Linked DNA regions of Homo sapiens: region 1 is linked to region 2. Evidence: fine-mapped expression QTL. Tissue or cell type: whole blood. Region 2 holds a variant in brackets; the other region holds the start of a gene. All regions are shown on one strand. Distances are between the middles of the regions.

The links. PIP is the estimated chance that this variant, and not a neighbour inherited with it, causes the effect.
Region 1: it holds the start of RAI1, and the variant in region 2 is fine-mapped to the expression of RAI1 in whole blood (TOPMed, PIP above 0.99).

What each region holds. Positions count from the first base shown.
Region 1 is chr17:17,676,992-17,685,163 of GRCh38, forward strand. It overlaps RAI1 (retinoic acid induced 1), which reads left to right and starts at 4,467. Exons shown (of 6, transcript NM_030665.4): 1 at 4,467-4,802. It overlaps SMCR2 (Smith-Magenis syndrome chromosome region, candidate 2), which reads right to left and starts at 697. Exons shown (of 4, transcript NR_131243.2): 1 at 584-697. RefSeq lists silencers at 4,188-4,697, 4,728-4,867, 4,928-5,007, 5,019-5,191, 5,178-6,127 and an enhancer at 4,508-5,109.
Region 2 is chr17:17,722,643-17,730,814 of GRCh38, forward strand. RAI1 (retinoic acid induced 1) reads left to right here. Exons shown (of 6, transcript NM_030665.4): 2 at 1,386-1,517. Among named protein-coding and RNA genes, the nearest start is that of RAI1-AS1, 40 kb to the right of the region's middle. RefSeq lists an enhancer at 2,370-3,251 and silencers at 7,013-7,307, 7,022-7,220, 7,250-7,309. The variant C/T (reference allele first, on the strand shown) is at 4,003.

The DNA.
Region 1 (8,172 bases), 46 kb before region 2:
AACTTCAAAATTTTCACTTTTTGCTCTGCTTTCCAATCAAAACAAACCTAGCAGCCTGAGTTCGGCCTTTGAGCTGCAAGTTTGAGACTCTGCCCCAACACTGACTTTATTGAGCCTCTGCATTGCATAGCGTGCACACCCCTGCTCACCCTTCTACCTGTGTGCAACTAAGGATGACAAGCAGGGTCAGCAGCAGAAGTGTCTTGGGGCTAGCTCTGCTGACAGTGATCCCTGATCAGTTCCTAGTTCTCTTCTGAGAAGACTGAGCCCTCTCAACCAGCATCATTCAGAGCAGTCTCAGGATGGTTAGGCCTATGGCTGTCCTCCTCTGGAAGGGCCCTCGTTTGTTCAGAAGCCTCCCTGGTTAAAGCAGGCAGAGGAAAATCACTCTTGAAAGCTCAACTCACTAATCACCTCCTCCAGGAAGCCTTCCCTGAATTCCTTGACAGGACTAGGTCATTACTCTGCATGCCTGGGCACCACAGCACTCTTCATGGGTAACTTTCACATTGCAACCCAGGGTCTAACCCAGTGTCTGACCCACAGTGGGCTCTCCATGCATGAAATGGGTGACTAAACTCACCTGCTGTGTGACTTTGGATCAGTGACTTCACCTCTCTGAGCCTTGATTTTCTTATCTGTAAAATGAGTTGAGGCAAGACAGCATTCAGAGGGTCCTTGCAGATGTGATTAAATAAATTAAGAGTCTTCTTGAGATGGAGGGATTAGCCTGGATTATCCAGGTGGACCGGAATGGAATCACAAGGGTCCTCATGAGCAGAGGCAGGAAGGTCAAGGGAGGAAGTAGAAGCTGGGACAATGGAAGCAATTGTTTTCTTGCCTGTTCTAGCTTCTGGAGGTCACCAAGGGGTCACAAGCTGAGAAACACAGGCAACCTCCAGAAATTGGAAAAGGCAAGGAAGAGATTCTCTCCTGGAGGCACCAGGAGAGCTAGCCCAGCCCACACCTTGGCTTTAGCCCAGTGAAACTGATTTTGGAGTTCTGACCTCCAGAACTGTAAAGAATAAATCTGTCTAGGCTGGGCAACATGGTGAAACCCACTCTCCACAAAAAATACAAAAATTAGCTAGGCTTGGTGGTGTGGTATGTGCCTGTGGTCTCAGCTACTTGGAAGGCAGAGGCACGAGAATCACTTGAACCCGAGAGGCAGAGGTTACAGTGAGCCAAGATTGCGCCACTGCACTCAAGCCTGGGCAACAGAGCAAGACTCTGTCATAAATAAATAAATAAATAAATAAATAAATTAATTAATTAATTAATTTGTGTTATTTTAAGCCACTTGTGGAATTTGTTACAACATCCCTAGGCACCTGGCACACAGTAGGTACTCAAAAGTGGCAGTTCTGGTCAGGCGTGGTGGCTCACACTTGTAATTCCAGCACTTTGGGAGGCCAAGGCAGGAGGATCACTTGAGCCCAGAATTCAAGACCAGCCTGGGCAACATAGCAAGATGCCATCTCTATAAAAAATAAATTGGCTAGGCATAGTGGTGTATGCCTGTGGTCCCAGTTACTCAGGGGGCTGAGGTGGGAGAACTGCTTGAGTTCAGGAGTTTGAGGCTGCAGTCAGCTATGATCACACCATTGCACTCCAGCCTGGGCAACAGAGTGAGACTCTGTCTTACACACACATATACACACATTCACACTCACACACAAAAGCAGTTGTTAGTACCTTGACCGCACACCCTCTTCCATCTGCCTGCATATTCCTTCCTCCTCTCACTCTCTGGGACACCCATCCCCTTTGCAACCCAGGGCTCCCTTCCTGCCCATCCTCTGAGGTCTGCCTCAATCGCCACCTCCTCCAACCCTTCGCTGAACTGACATCCAGAAATGCTAATCCCTTGAACAAATGTGCTTCCTTGAGTGGTGCCTGAGCTATGGCTCCCAAAGAGGCCAGGCTTGTGATCCTCTTTGTACCCCCAGCCCTGCCTACAGGGTCCAGTGGCCCCAGTCATGTAAACTTGATACCAAGGAATTTTCAAAACAAAAAATACCTAATTCCAAGGCCAGAAAATTGACTCTCCTTGGGGTTCCAGCTGGTCTCCCACCCTCTCCAGGTGGAGAAGCTAGTCTTGGGGACCCTTGTGTGGGAACCAGAAATCTCCCAGCAAGACCTCCTTGTCTTGCCTCCCACTGGGGTCCCTAGAACCAGCCTTCCCTTAGGCTCCACTCAGGAGCAGGTTAAGGTAAGGCAGGGAGGGCAGGAGACCAGCTCGGGGTGGAGATTGGGAGCCCTGGATGGATGATAGGGACTGTTCCCATTAATCTAGCATCTTAAAGCAGTAATAGCACTTACTGCATGCCAGGCTGTGAGCTAAATGCTTTCCACACGTACCTCATTCAATCCTCTCAACAGACCCATGAGGTAGGTACTATTATCCCCATTCTACAGATGAGGAAACGGAGGCTCAGCAAGTTAAGTAGTTTGCCCAAAGCCACCCAGCTGGGCATAGAGGAGCCACGTTTAGAAACCAGATTTGCCAGGCGCGGTAGCTCATGTCTGAAATCTCAGCACTTTGGGAGTCCGAGGCAGGTGGATCACCTGAGGTCAGGAGTTCAAGATCAGCTTGACCAACATGGAGAAACCCTGTCTCTACTAAAAATACAAAATTAGGTGGGTGTGGCGGTGCATGTCTGTAATCCCAGCTACTCGGGAGGCTGAGGCAGGAGAATTGCTTGAATCTGGGAGGCAGAGGTTGTGGTGAGCCAAGATCGCACCATTGCACTCCAGGCAGGGCAACAGGGGCAAAACTCCGTCTCAAAAAAAAAATACATAAATAAATAAATAAAAATAAACCAGATCTGTCATCCAGAAACCGCACTTAAAACAAGCTTAAAACAACACAGTTCGCACTGGGATCCAGCTCTGTCTTGCTCTTGACATTCACCCTGGGAGACGGGTAGCCAAGTCCAGTAGGAAGGACTGTGGGGACCTGTGTTGATTCTGTCCTGTAGCTTGAGAACCTGGACAGGGGACTTCACCACTCTGCGCCTGTTTCCTCATCCACAAAATGTGATGAGCCGACCTCACAGAGGGGGCACCAGGATCTAATGAGACCATGCACAGAAGGGGCACAGCAGGCCTGGGACAGAGTGAGGGCCCCCCATCTATCACAATACCTTATTTTGCAGATGCAGGATTCACTTGTCCCAGGTCACCCACAAGCTCTGATGCCTTGACCAGCTCCCCTCTGCCCTACCAAAGGACAAATGAGGGAGGCTTCGATGGGGCTGTTAATGGGGTCATATCCCACAGACCCTAGAGCCTGGGTGGGGCTGAGAGGCTTCCCAAGCAGGTGGCAGTGAGCTCCCACCTGAGCTATGGCAAGTAGAGACCTAGGCATGAAATTGCTCCGAGGTCTGTACCTTAAGTTTCATGCAAGGACTCTCTCATTCAACATGCCTCTGTTTAAAGTCTGCCAGTGGCTACCTTCCTTGCACTAGAATTGCAAACAAATTCCTCACTGAGCTCTCTGCAGCCCTGCAGGCTCTGGCCCTCCCGATATGGCTCTGACTTCAATGTGCCCATTACTTGTCCCCTTGCTGACGGCCTCCTCACAATTCCACTTACTCACCAAGTTCTCTCCTGCCTCAGGACCTTTGCACTTGATGTTCTTTCTGCCAATGATGCTCTTCCCAGGAGGGCAGGCCCCTGTAGTCCCAGCTACTCAGAAGGCTGAGGTGGGAGGACTGTTTGAGGCCAGGAATTCAAGTTCGGCCTGGGCAACACAGCAAGACCCTGCCTCTAAAAGAACAAAATGCTCTTCCCAGACTCTACCCATGGCGGTTCCTCTTGCTATTTAGATCTTTGCACAGACAGGCCTCCTTCTCTCTCCCCCAGCCAAGGAGCCCTAGCCGTCACTTCACCTGCTAATTTTCGTCCTAGCACTTACTGCTCTAAAATTATCTTCGTCATGTATCTAAGCATTTGTTTGCTGTCTGTCTCTTCCCACCAGGATGCCAGCTCCACGACAGCAGGGACCGCATTGTCTCTGCTGATTCCTCAAGACTCAGCAAGGTGCCAGGTGCCCAGTAAATGAAGTTTACATGAAGCCAATGGAGTTTTGAAATCGAAAATGTTTCTCAAACTGCAAAGAAGTGGGCACAGGTGAGGGCTAATGGTGGGGTGAGGGTGGGGGCCTGGCCTGACGCTGGAAGCTCCTGTACGCAGGGCGCTAGTGTCCTCCCAGGCCGCACCGGGATCCCACCGCAGAGGCCCCCTCCCGCAGGCCGGCCAGCGGGCGGGGGGCGCGCAGTGGGGCGCGCGGACCGCCAGGGGGTGCTGTCGGGGCGCGCACGGCCCACCTGGCGCCCGGGGCCGCGAGCGAGCGCAGCCAGGCCGCCCGGGAACTTTTTTCCTCGCGCTCTTGCTCTCCTTCTCCCCCCGCGCGTCGCCCGCCCGCCCGTCCGCTCGTCCGCTCTTCCTGTGCGGAGGGGATCGCATTCCTCGCGGCACCCGCGGACACCAGGCAGGCCCGGCCGGGTGCGCGGCCAAGGCCCGCTCCCCGCGTCCCCGGGCGCCGCCCCCGCCCGCGGCTGGGCTCCGAGAGACGAGTGGGAGAGCGAGTGCAGCGAGGGCGAGAGGCGAGCCGAGCAGGCCGCCCTGCCCGCGGCCCTAGCGCCGGCGCGAGGAGGGGGCGCCGCGGCCCACCCTCCTTCCTGCCTGGCCGCGGGCCGGCCGGGCCGCCGCGCCCCGACCCCCATGGCCACCCAGGCCTCCGGGCCGCGAAGTCGCAGCGCCAGACCCAAGGCCCCCGAGTGAGCGCGGGCGCCGAGGTGAGCAGCGAGCGCCGGGGCGCGGGGGGCGCAGTGTATCCTGCCCCGGGGCGGGGGCGGCGCGAGGCGTCGGGATCCTAGGCCGGGTGATGAGCCGAGGCGGGTTCGGACGCCGAGCGCGCGCGCTGGGTGGAGATGTGGGGTCCGCGGGGTCCTTGCTTTGTGTGGTGTGGGGGGTGCGCGAGGTCACCGGATGGACGTCTGGGGAGCTGCAGGGTGGGGGCGCCCTGCGCCGCGGCTGAGGGTCTTCTGGGGGATGTGCGGCCAGCTGAGGTCGGGTGGGGGCATGGGGGCGCGAGGGGCGAGTGTGGCAAGGGATCTGCTTGCGCCGAGGCGCGGAGTCTTTGCGGAGCGTGGGGTGGGGACGTGGGGTGCATTCGCGGGGCGCCGGGGGCGGAGGTGAGCTTTGTGAGTGCGTCCGAGGTGGGGGACGGGGAGCTGACTTCCCCATGCGTGACCCGGGCCCGGCGTGGCCATCGCTTGGGAGTCAGGGCCGGCGAAGGCCGTGCGTGGCGAGATGGGTGCTCGGGCTCTCTGCGGTGTCCCTACCCGGGCAGCGGCCCCGGGGCCTGTGCGCAGGCCCCGAGGCCGGGCAGGAAGCGGCCCCCGCGACCTGGGGAGCTCTGTAGCGGCCAGGCCCGGGAGGCACGGGCCCTTCGGGGATGACGTCACGGGCGGGGGCCCCGGACACGCGAGCCTTGCGCCCCACAGACGGCGGCGCAGCCCGCCGCCCTTTTCGAGGCCGGCCCCCCCTCTCACGCGCCTTGAAGGCAGGGAACCCGGGAGGAGGACATGGGGGCCGAGTGCGGCGGGGACAAGGGGTGGCAGGACGCGAGGGTGACATTTGGAGCCTGGTCGCGCCAGGGGCCTCCGTGGTGGGGCGGAGGGGAAGCGAAACACCAGCCAGGCCCTAGGCCGTCGCGGCCCCAGCTTCCTGGGGCGCCCGTTTTCCCGGCTAGCAGTTTTCTTTCTTGGGGCTCTTGGTCGTTATCCAGTCCACGCAGGGGCCGGAGTGCGGGCTGCCGCGGTGCTCTCCTGCGCGGAGCCCGGGCTGGCGGGGGCGCGGCGGGCCTCGGGCTCTGAATGGATGGGAGCGAGTGTAACAATGCGCCGGTGGGGGCTGGGGGAGGGGAGGCCGCGCGCCTGAATGGCGGAGCCGGCCGGGCGCTGCTCCGCGCGCCGCACACTCTCCCGCGCCGCCTTCCCCGCGGTTTCGGCGGGCCCGGATTCAGGGACCCACTCGGGATCTGCACGGTTCCTCCCACCAATACTGTCCCCCGCCCCCCTTTTATGTCTTTCCAATGCAGTAGTGTGTTGAGAATTCAAGGGCATTACATCTGGTTGCAATCCAGTTTCATGCCGCTGCCGGGCTGTTAAGACCTCGCGCTGACGTCAGAGCAGGGGAATTACTTCTTTTTATTTTATCTTTTTTTAGTTGTCTGCTGCCCTGGGAGGAGAGGCGGGGGTGGGTTAGGCTAGCTCTGATGTGGAGGCGCCAGCGTGATGGGAGCCCCGAGCTGGGGGCTCTGCTTCTCTTCCTGCCCCTGCCCCCCTCCATTCTCCATACAGTCCTCGCTCTGCTCAGGGTCAGGCCCACCCCAGGTGGGGGGCAGCCCTCGCTGCAGACTGAATGGTGGCCCCTCCCTGCTGACCACACAGCTGGGTTTTCAGAGGCTTTCCTGGGACGTGGCCCTCGGGATCTAGAAACTGGAAAGGAATCTTCTAGTTTCCCACCCCTCCCCCTCTTGACAGGCAAGCCGGTATATTCGGGGCCCAGGAGCAAGGAAAAGTGGCCTTTTGCGTGACACAGAAGTGGACACATCATTCTGATCTCAGGGCAGGCTCAGCCCCATAACTCTGGCAAAAGCTCTCACAAGCAAAAGCCTTGGAGAGGAGGAGAATGTATCAAGGTGAGATCCAGGCCCCAGAAGCCAACTGTGGAGTGGGCAAAATAGGACCTTTCCCACCAGCCTAGCATCCCTCTGGCTTCTGTGGAGATAAAGGGAACTCAGGGGTACTGGAGCTGCCTTTCTCTTCCACTAGACTGTGGGGCTCTCATAGGCAGGGACCCTGTCTTACTCCTCTTTGTTTTATTTTTGAGACAGGGTCTTGCTGTGTGGCCCAGGCTGGAGTGCCTTGGCACAAACACAGCTCACTTCAGCCTCAACCTCCAGGGCTCAAGCGATCCTCCAGCATCAGTCTCCTGAGTAGCTGGGATCACAGGCGCCCGACACCACACGTAGCTAATTTTAAATTTTTTTTTTTTTCTAGAGACAGGGGTCTTGCCATGGCTGGTCTTGAAGTCCTGGGCTCAAGCGATCCTCCCTCTTTGGCCTCCCAAAGTGCTGGGATTACAGGAGTGAGTCACTGCACCCAGCCTTACTCCTCTTTAGACTCCCAAGCCTAGACCAATTGCTTTCAAATTCTTGCCCGTGACCTATAGTAAGAAATACATCGTAGGTAACTACACAGGTCACACTGTATATAGCTGAAACAAAAGTTTACTGAAATAACTCCCTTACTGTGTCTGCTGGTCTGTAATCCTTTTTGTTCTTGTGTATTTGTTTTTTTTTTAATTACTGATTGCTACCCACGAAATTAATTTTGCAATCCACTGATGGGTCATACCCAGAATTTGAAAAAAACAAGCCTAGGAAATGAATTTGCCATCTATTCATGCAACAAATGTTAATTGCAACCCTAATAATTCCTCTCATGTTAAACTACTCAAGTAACACTTGGATACTTGGGTGAAAAATGCAAATAAGCCAGAAATATATGTAGTAAAAGTAAAAGTTCCCTTGGCACCCTCCCTGCAGGTAACCCCAGTTAATAGTTTGAACGTATCCTTCCAGACTTTTTGTTACTCACTTAATGCATATATATATATATATATATATATATATATATATATGTATGTATGTATGTATATTACATATACCAATCCATGCATAGTTTTCTTTTTCCCCAAGTGAGGACATACTGTGGGCTCTTCCTCGGCAGCTTCCTTTTTCCTCTCCGTTTGTCTTGGAGAGGTTGGTTGTGTGGCGAAGTCCTTCAGGGCAAGTTCTGGGTTGACTCCTGGCTCCACCACATACTGAACAGGCCATTTACCTCTCTGTGCCTCAGTGTCCCCATCTTTACAATCAGGAGAATAACAGTACAGACCTCACGGTACTGAAGTAAAGATGCAGTGAGTTAATCCATATGAAGTTTAGAGCAGTGCTTTTGCCAATAAATGCTGATTGCTGCCGTCATTGTTGTATTGTTATTGCTGTTCTATCTCCATGGCAGCCCATGTTTGAAATGCATTGCTTTCCACAGCTGCCTGTGGCCATGGCATGGGTGTCTTTTTCCTCCCCTATCCAAC
Region 2 (8,172 bases):
ATGCTTCTGTGCTGCGCCAGAATCATCGAGTCTCAGTTCTCGCTGCCTTCCCGGCCAGTAGGCGTCTCCCCCAGCTGGGGAGGGTCCCCCAAACCCTGTGCTTCTAGGACCGCGGGGCCGGCAAGCGGCAGGATCTCCAAGCTGCGTCTCTGATGCGGCTAGGGGAGGCGCGCGATGAAGGCCCCCCTCTTCTCCGCCTTCTCTCTACGCCCCACCGCTACTACACGTCGCGCTGCGCCGCGACCCCGGCGCTGCCTGTTGGCGCCTTAAGCGGCTCTTCTGCCGCGGTGCGATCCCCGACGCCAGGAGGACTAACCCCCACCCGCCAGGCCTCAGACCCCACGCAGATCCAGCCACACACGCAACCGCCTGCAGATACCCACCACAGCCCTTTAAGTTAACCCAAAGCCCCGTACAGGCGCACTGCCCCTACATGCGCAGCCCCACGGCCCCACACACCCACCAGCCCACTCGCAAACAGGCCCACATGGCCACACAACTGCCCTCTGGACACTCAGCCCCACGCAGGCACAATCCCATATACACACAACCGCACACAGGCGCAATCCCACCCACGCAGTACCTCACGGAGTCACACAACCCCCCTATAAACAATCGCACAGACACAGCCCCACGCAGCGCCACATCATTCAGTCAAACTGAGACCCAGAAACACATTCACTAGCTTGTATCCAGACCCCCCCCCCCAAGCCCCGTGACATTCACTCGTAGGACAGACCAGAAATATACAGCCACATTGATACACACACGGACCTAAACGCACAGCCAAGACCTCACCCGCAGGCTCGTAAGTCACTGGAAAAATATTAAAGCGTTCCCTCCCTCCCCTCCTCTATCTTTGACATACACACGCCTGCGCGCGCGCGCACTCTTACACTCACACCCCCCGTCCCTAAGCGCGTCGGAGCCTCGCAGCGGGTGACCCCGAGGCCCCGCGGTGAGAGCCAAGGGAGCGTCTCCCCGGCGCCCCCTCCTCCCGCTCCCTTCCCGAGCTCATCTCTCGCCCCCCCGCCCGCCTCCTCCTTCCCTGCCCCCTCCTCCTCCTCCCTTCCCCCGAGTCTGGGGCGCGGGCTGCGCGCAGCCAAGCCCCCTCATCGCGCGCCCCTCCCCGCGCGCGCCCCGCGCCAGCATCGCGCTTACCGAGTGGATGCGGCCACGGGGCCGTCTCTAATTACCTCCTGACCCCCGGCGGCCTGTGAATAATGGCTACTGAGGGCGCTCGCAGGGGCTGCTAAGAAGGAAACGCGGGGCGCGAGAGGCGCGGCGCGCGCGGGAGCGCGAGGGAAAGGAGCGAGCCTGGGGCCGTTGCAAGCGGCTGGCGAGAGAAAGGATTCGTGCGAGCGCTCACATTTGTTTCTCCCAAGGATCTCATCTGGCCACCGCGTTCTGGAAGAGGCGAGAGGGAGAGCGTGCGCGAGAGGAGAGAGACGGCGGGGGAAAGGGAGACGGCGAGACGCGCAGCGCCGGCGCCCGGGAGACCCAGGAGGAGCCCGCAGGTATTGTTGGCGGCGGAGCTTTGTGTTTTCGGCGGGCTGCTGTGGGCGCCAGGGCTCCCCGAGCCCCCGGCCCGCCGCCGCGCGCAGACCTGCCCGGAGTCCGGGGCTGCAGGCTGGGGTCGCCGCCCGCCGCGGACACCCCTCCCGCGGCGCCAGGATCTTGGCTGGAGTTGCGGATTTGCATGTTTGGGGGTTTTCCACGCTGGTTGAGGGAATCGGTCTCAGAAGAAGGAATTTCTTTCTTTCCTTTTTTTTTTTTTTTTTTTGGCCGCTTTTGGCCACAGTTTGGTTGTGCTGGGGATTCCCCCCTCCCCTTTCCTCCACAAAGCATTGGTGAGCGGTCTTGACGAATGTGGTATTGGCGGAAGGCATGGGGCTGAGATGGCGGGGCTGGTGGCCACGGATGGGGAGGCGAGAGATGCCAGAGAAGGAAGGAGTTCTGTTCAAGTTCGCAATCTGCGCCCCGAAGCTGGTCGGACCGGGGAGGGCGATCCGCGCGTCCGATCCTGCTCCGGGCAACCGATGGGAAACTTCCCGAGAGCGCGGCCTCCCTGGGGACTCGGCGCCCCTGACGCCTCCAGGCGCTTCCTCGGGCCGCTGCGGCCCCTCCTCGCCGCCCGCCAGCGCTTAAGGTCGCGCTCTCCCCACCCCCGCCTTCCTCCCTTCCTCGGCGGCTTCCGGATCTGGACAGAGCTGCAGGAGTGGCTTCAAACACTTCCCCTGGAGACCCCTCCCCACTCCCCGCACGAGAGCCTGCCCAGTGGCCCCCCTGCCCTGCGCCCCAGTCTCACGCGCGGTCGAGTGGCCAGGCTGACAATGAAATCTCGCACCTCTGCCGGGGGGAGTGGGGTGGGGAGGAGGTCCCTCCTGGGGCTGCTGACCCTGGGCCTCGGGCAGGGGGAGGGGGCTCCTGGGGGAGGGGCTTGTTTTGGTTAGAGACGTCGACCTGGGATGGCGCCGGGGCAGGGAGGGGGCTGGGGGGTGGGCGCGGCGAAGGCGGCAGGCTTGGGTTCGCGGCCGGGGGTCGTGGATGGCAGCCCCTCTTGGGCTTGGTGATTGGCTGGTGACTTCAGGCACGTCGAGGGCCCCTCCAACCTCAGCCTCCTCCCCTCTGGTACAATGCGGGCTGAAAGAGGTGATCCCGAGGGTGCTGTGCTTGTGTGACGAAGTGTTTGTCTCCTGCGATCCTCAGCAGACGCTGCTCCGGTGACCCGGAGATCCGGACGCCTCGACCCCTCCCTCAGGGCCGGGAGGAGAGGAGGATGAAGGGGGAGGAGAGTGGTGGGAACTTCTCCTTTCCCATTGAGGCCATGGGAAGGGAATGCTAGCCCAGAAAATTTCTGGGGACCGCAGTTCTGAGGCGGGGACTCAATCCAAGGGGGGACCACCGGGTCAGAGGCTTCCCGGCACGCAGAAGCCCCCAGATTATTTTGCTCCATCGGGGGATGCAGAGGAAGGGGAGAGGTGGAAGAGCGAAGGGCTAGCTGGACTGGCGTTGCGGGGGTGGAGAGCCCGTGGAAATCAGCCTTAATTGGATTCCCAGGCAAGCAGCCAGGCTATCAAGGTGCCCCCTCCCCTTTTTCTTCCTGGGGTAGAGAGCCAGGTCCAGAGACACCAAGCTGGCAACCCAGGCAGGTGAAGGCAATTCCTCTCCCTACTTAAAAAGAGAATTCCTGGGGGAGAGGGGAGGCACCTTTTGAGAGGGAGGGGGGCGGCTAGACTGTGTTCAGGCTGTTCTGTCTCTTGGTCCAGGAATAGAAAGAGTTAACCCTCCCCCAGAAATTTGTCAGCCCCCACACAGCAGGGAAACATTGTTGGACCCTCTGACATGCTAACAGTGTGACACCGGCTGACTGGAGCTAGCAGATTCTAGACCCTGGACTCCCCCTTCAAAGCCCAACAGGACTCGGCTGGGTGGTGCCTTGTTCAGGGACCTTGTGGGAGGCGGAAATGAGAGCCCAGAGAGGGTCAGGCAGCAAAGCAGTGGCCTTGTGGCCCGGAGGGAAGAGGGGTTACAAGCCAGGGCCATCGGAAACTGGAAGGGAAGTCGCCATGGGTCTGGGGTAGAGGGAAGGGAGAGGCCCTTCTACCCTTTGCCCAGACTCCTGAGCAAGGCTTTGCCCTGCTCCCCACCCTTCCCACACACCCACTCAGCTGCAGGCCTGGCCATTAAATGTGGGTGTCTGACCCATAGGTTGGACCATGAGACCCTAGTGGCTGAGGGAGGCCTGGGTGAGGCTCTGGGAGGCAGGACTGAAACCAGCAAGGGATTCACTGCTGCTCATGCCCTATGGCACAACCCCCTTATTTATGGGGCTGCCTTCCCTTCCCCAGACCTCGAGTTTCCGTTTTCAAGAACCTTTTTCTTCCTATCTTCCTTAGGGCCCCCAGGGCCTAGCACACAGCAGTCACTCACAGTGTCCTGTATTTGTCCAGCTAAATGGAGTGAATGAATCAGTGGTGAATGAATGAAAAGGGAAAGTTT[C/T]TCAATTGGAAGCATCTAGCCCTTGTGGTTTTTTTTAAACCTTTTTGAAATATATATTGTAAAATAGCATTCACAGAAAAGCTGAAAAAAAAAGAGAAAAATAAGGTTATTGACAGTCTTAGAGGGCTCTGACAATGTTAGTATTTTGATGTAGTTCTTCCCAGTCCTTTTCGACTCGGTGGTTGGTTTGTTTTTTAAAGACTTTGTCGTCATTCTCTATATTCAGATGTATATCCTGCTTGCTTTGCCGGCATAATGTGAGCCTTTTCCTGTTTTGTAACCAATGCTTCATAAACACCATGGTTAATGTCTTCAGGCTTTTCCAATCAAGTGGATGTACCATAATTTACTTAATATTCCCCTTTTGTCCAACATTCTGGATGTTCCTGATGAATGATGTAGTGGATATATTTTGTATAGCTTTTCTTGATACTTAAAATGATTTGCTCAAAATGCCACTGCTGATGCCGAAGGCTCCGACTGCCTGCAGTGGGAGAAACGGCTTCTCTAGTTTTCCTTGGATAAATGGGACACTATTTTTCCTTCCCCACAATCTAGAACCTTCCATCAGAGCCGAAAAGAGCCTTGGCAATGAATCACCTATCTGACCTCCCTCCTTTGACAGAAGAGGAAGCCAGAGCCCAGAGAGGGGAAGCGAGTCCCAAGGTCACACAGCAGTTGCTGGGCTATGCAGCAGCGAAGACCCAGCTACTGATTTGCCATGTTGGTTTTCGCATCTGAAAAGATTCCTGAGGTCTTTAAGGCTGACCCTGCCCATTTCACAGATGGGGGGACTGAGACCCCAAGCTTACCCCTGGTGCCGCCAGCTGGAGCCCCAGACAGGCTTCTCGGCCCTCCTGGGCCACCCCCGACTGGGTGTGTTCACGGGATCTGGCGGCTACAGGCTCCCTGTTGCCCGCCCCACCTGCCCACCACAGTTCCCCTTCCTCTTTGCCATCCCATTCTCCAGACAAAAAGCTGAGGATCCAAAGCAGATGCAGTGAGGGGGTGGGACTGTAGGTCTCTGGGGACCCTAGTGGTTGCGTCCTTGCCCCATGCCTCAGTTTACTTGTCAGAGACCTAACCTTGGATCTGTTCAGGAGCAGAGGCAGATGTTGGCACAGATATGAGGTATGAAGGAGTGGTGTGGGGGATGGGGTGCACCTTAAAATCTCTCTCTGGCCCGAGATTCACCCCAGGAGACCCCCCGGGGAGAAGGGAAGGAGAGAGAGAGGGAAGAAAGAGTTGAAGCAGAGACAGTATTCCCCATCAGAGGACAGGGACTTTCTGCCCCCTCCCCTGCAGCACACCAACCATCCGTGTGCCTCTGATCCTGCTTGTGTATTGCTTAAGGGGTTTGTGTGCCTTCCAGCTTGGGCATGTGTTGTGCATGCGTGCCTCTGTGTGTGTGTGTGTCCGTCCCTGTGTGTGTCCCCTCTGTGGTGTCAGTCTCTGATCCCATTTGTGCATTTCTGGGGGGAAGGGAGGGTGCCCCCGAGCTCGGTCTTGTGTGTGCGCGTGCATGCATGTGTGCATGTCTGTGTGTGAGCACACTGTTTCCTCCTAATGGCCCCAGGAGGGATCCAGGCATCAGGCTTTTGTGCTGCTTCAAGGTTGTGGCTGGGTGGGCGAAGAGAGGGAAGGCCTTCGACAGGGAGGGGTGGGGTTGAGGGAGGCAAAAGAAAATCTTAAAAGACCGTCTTCCCTCTGGTCTCCAAGGAGATCAGGCTGTGAAATGATCCGCACGTTAATTAAAAACGATTATATCCTGATTGAGCCATTCCTGCTCACATCCCCCAGCCAGGGAGAGGAAGAGGCTGAGAGCAGAGGATGCAAAATGGGGTAGGGTCCAATGGCAGGGCATAGCCAGGTGGAGCCACAGCCCACGGAGGGGAGCACAGGCTGGGGGAGTCAAGTGGGAAGGTGTTGAGGGGCACGTGCCCAAGTCTGATTGGAGCTTCTCCTTTGAATTTTAGGGACTGTCTTCCAGTGGTGGTCTCTGAGATCCCAGGAGTGGGTGGCAGCCACCCAGCCCCATGGATCTCCACTCATATGCCAGGCACTGAGCTTGTTGTTTGCACAGATCCTGCAAGTCAGCGCTTGTGGTTCCAGTTTTACAGAGAAGTGACATGCTTGAGGTCATGCAGCCAGGAGTTGGGAGCCCCAGATTGGACCCAGTCCTCTGACCCCGAGGCCCAGATGCCCTTCATAGCTCCTAGCTGCCCCCAGATTCCCACCATGAGCCCCTACCTCTGCAGGACCCCTGGGAGGCTGGGGCCTACCATGACAAGAACTTCTCCATGGCGCCCCTGAGGTGGTTCCTTGCTGAGGTCCGAGCAGCACAGGGCTGGGCGGCTGTGATGTCCATTCACGTGGGGAGCTGGGTGACTCACTAGCCTGGAGCAGCCTTGGGCTGACTCAGGTCACCTTTGCCAACCTGGGCAAGGCCTGCCTCGCCCCACCTTGCTCCTCCCCAACACTGGCTCATGGTTCCACAGCAGACCAGCCACAGGTGCCCCGTGAGGCTCAAGACACTGTATCCACACTGCTGGGTACCTGTGCCATGTCTTTTCTGGAAGGAGTCTGGGCCTGGTCACGCTGGGCCTTGCCTGGTTATCTGTCTGCTGTAAGCCTTGTAAGGACTACGGTGGTAGAAAAGAGTAGTGGTAACAATAAACCAGACGACCCTCCACCTCCACCCCAGCATCAGGTGTTGCGGGGTTCACAAGCGTGGCAGATCTCAGCATTTGTGGGACCTGCCTGCTGCCATACCTCTGCCCACTCCCATCCACCCATGTGCCACCTCTGTGTTCCCTGAGCCCAGCTTCTCCGAGAGGAGGAGACCCACTGTGGCTTGGCCACACCCAGAAGCAAGTGAGATCGCTGGCCACGAGTGGGGGCTTTTTCTGCTTCTCTGAGCCTCAGTTTCCCCTTTGTATAATGGGGATGATAGCTTTTTCCGGAGAGGACTGACAAGAGAGTAAGGAAAACCAGGTCAAGTTTGTTCAAGTGCCTGGCAGCCCTGGAACGCACACAGAGGCCCATTTGTGCATTTGTGCAACTGTCCATCCGTTCAGGGCACTTGTGTGTTGCCACAGGCCTTGGGTTTGCTGGCTTCTGGGGAGGGACACACACTGTCACATTTCAGTGCTTTCTAGGAGACAGTCTGGGGCTCAGGTGACTGTCATCTCAGCATGAGCCTCTAGGGGGCAAAGATGCTCACTGGACCCACCTGAGGCTATGTTAGCAAAGGTAGAGTGGGAGAAGGGAGAGATGTTTCTGCTGGGGTAGGTCCTAGTGAGATTTGCTGAACCTGGTCCCACATCTTAGCAGGAGCCAGAAACAGTATCACGAGGCATCAGAGGGGCGGGCAGAACAGGAAGTCAGCATCCACCTGTTCCCCAAGGCAGAACTGGGAGAGAGGCAGGCAGATGTTCACTCATTCCACAAAAAGCCCTTTGCACTGAAGCAGGCAGAGAGACCCTGCCTGCGCTGGGTCATCCCTGCAAGATGCCACCTTTCAGGAGAACAGTTTTTGTGATGTTGGTATCTGCCTTCCTCCTAAATATCCCCTTCCTGCCCTTCCCAGGGCCTGAAATGCTTCCGTTAGTCACTGCCGAGGTCAGAGCATGGAAGGCCCTGATTAAAATGCAAACTGTTACTTGGAGGAGTGATCAGAAGATGAACTCATGTTTGCATAATGCAGAGGCCACCCACCCCTAGGCCCCGCAGGGCCGGGCAGGCAGTGCTGATGGGGTTGTGGTGGCTGCCTGGCCCTCATGGGGCGCGGTAGCTCAGCTCTGCCAGGGCAGCCCATGGGGATGCAGCCCATGGCGCCTGTTGCCCACTGTCTCAGGAACAGGATTAGATGTTGACATGACACTTCCTGGTCTGTATATGTTGTCACCTAATTCAGCAGCACCCCTACGACCAGATTTAGACCTGGGGCCACTAGTGCAGCCTCCTGGCTTCAATGCTGCTGCCCAGTGATCACTGTGACCATCCTGCAATACAAGTGGGGCAGGGACGGCAAAGCTGGGGCTCCCAGAGGGGAGCTCCCCTGCCCAAGTCTAGGCCAGTGAGGCCCTGCCAGGGCTGAGGTGTCATATGAGGTGCTGTCACCAGACTGGGGGACCGAGGCACAAGATGAGACTTTGTTGGCCCAGGAGG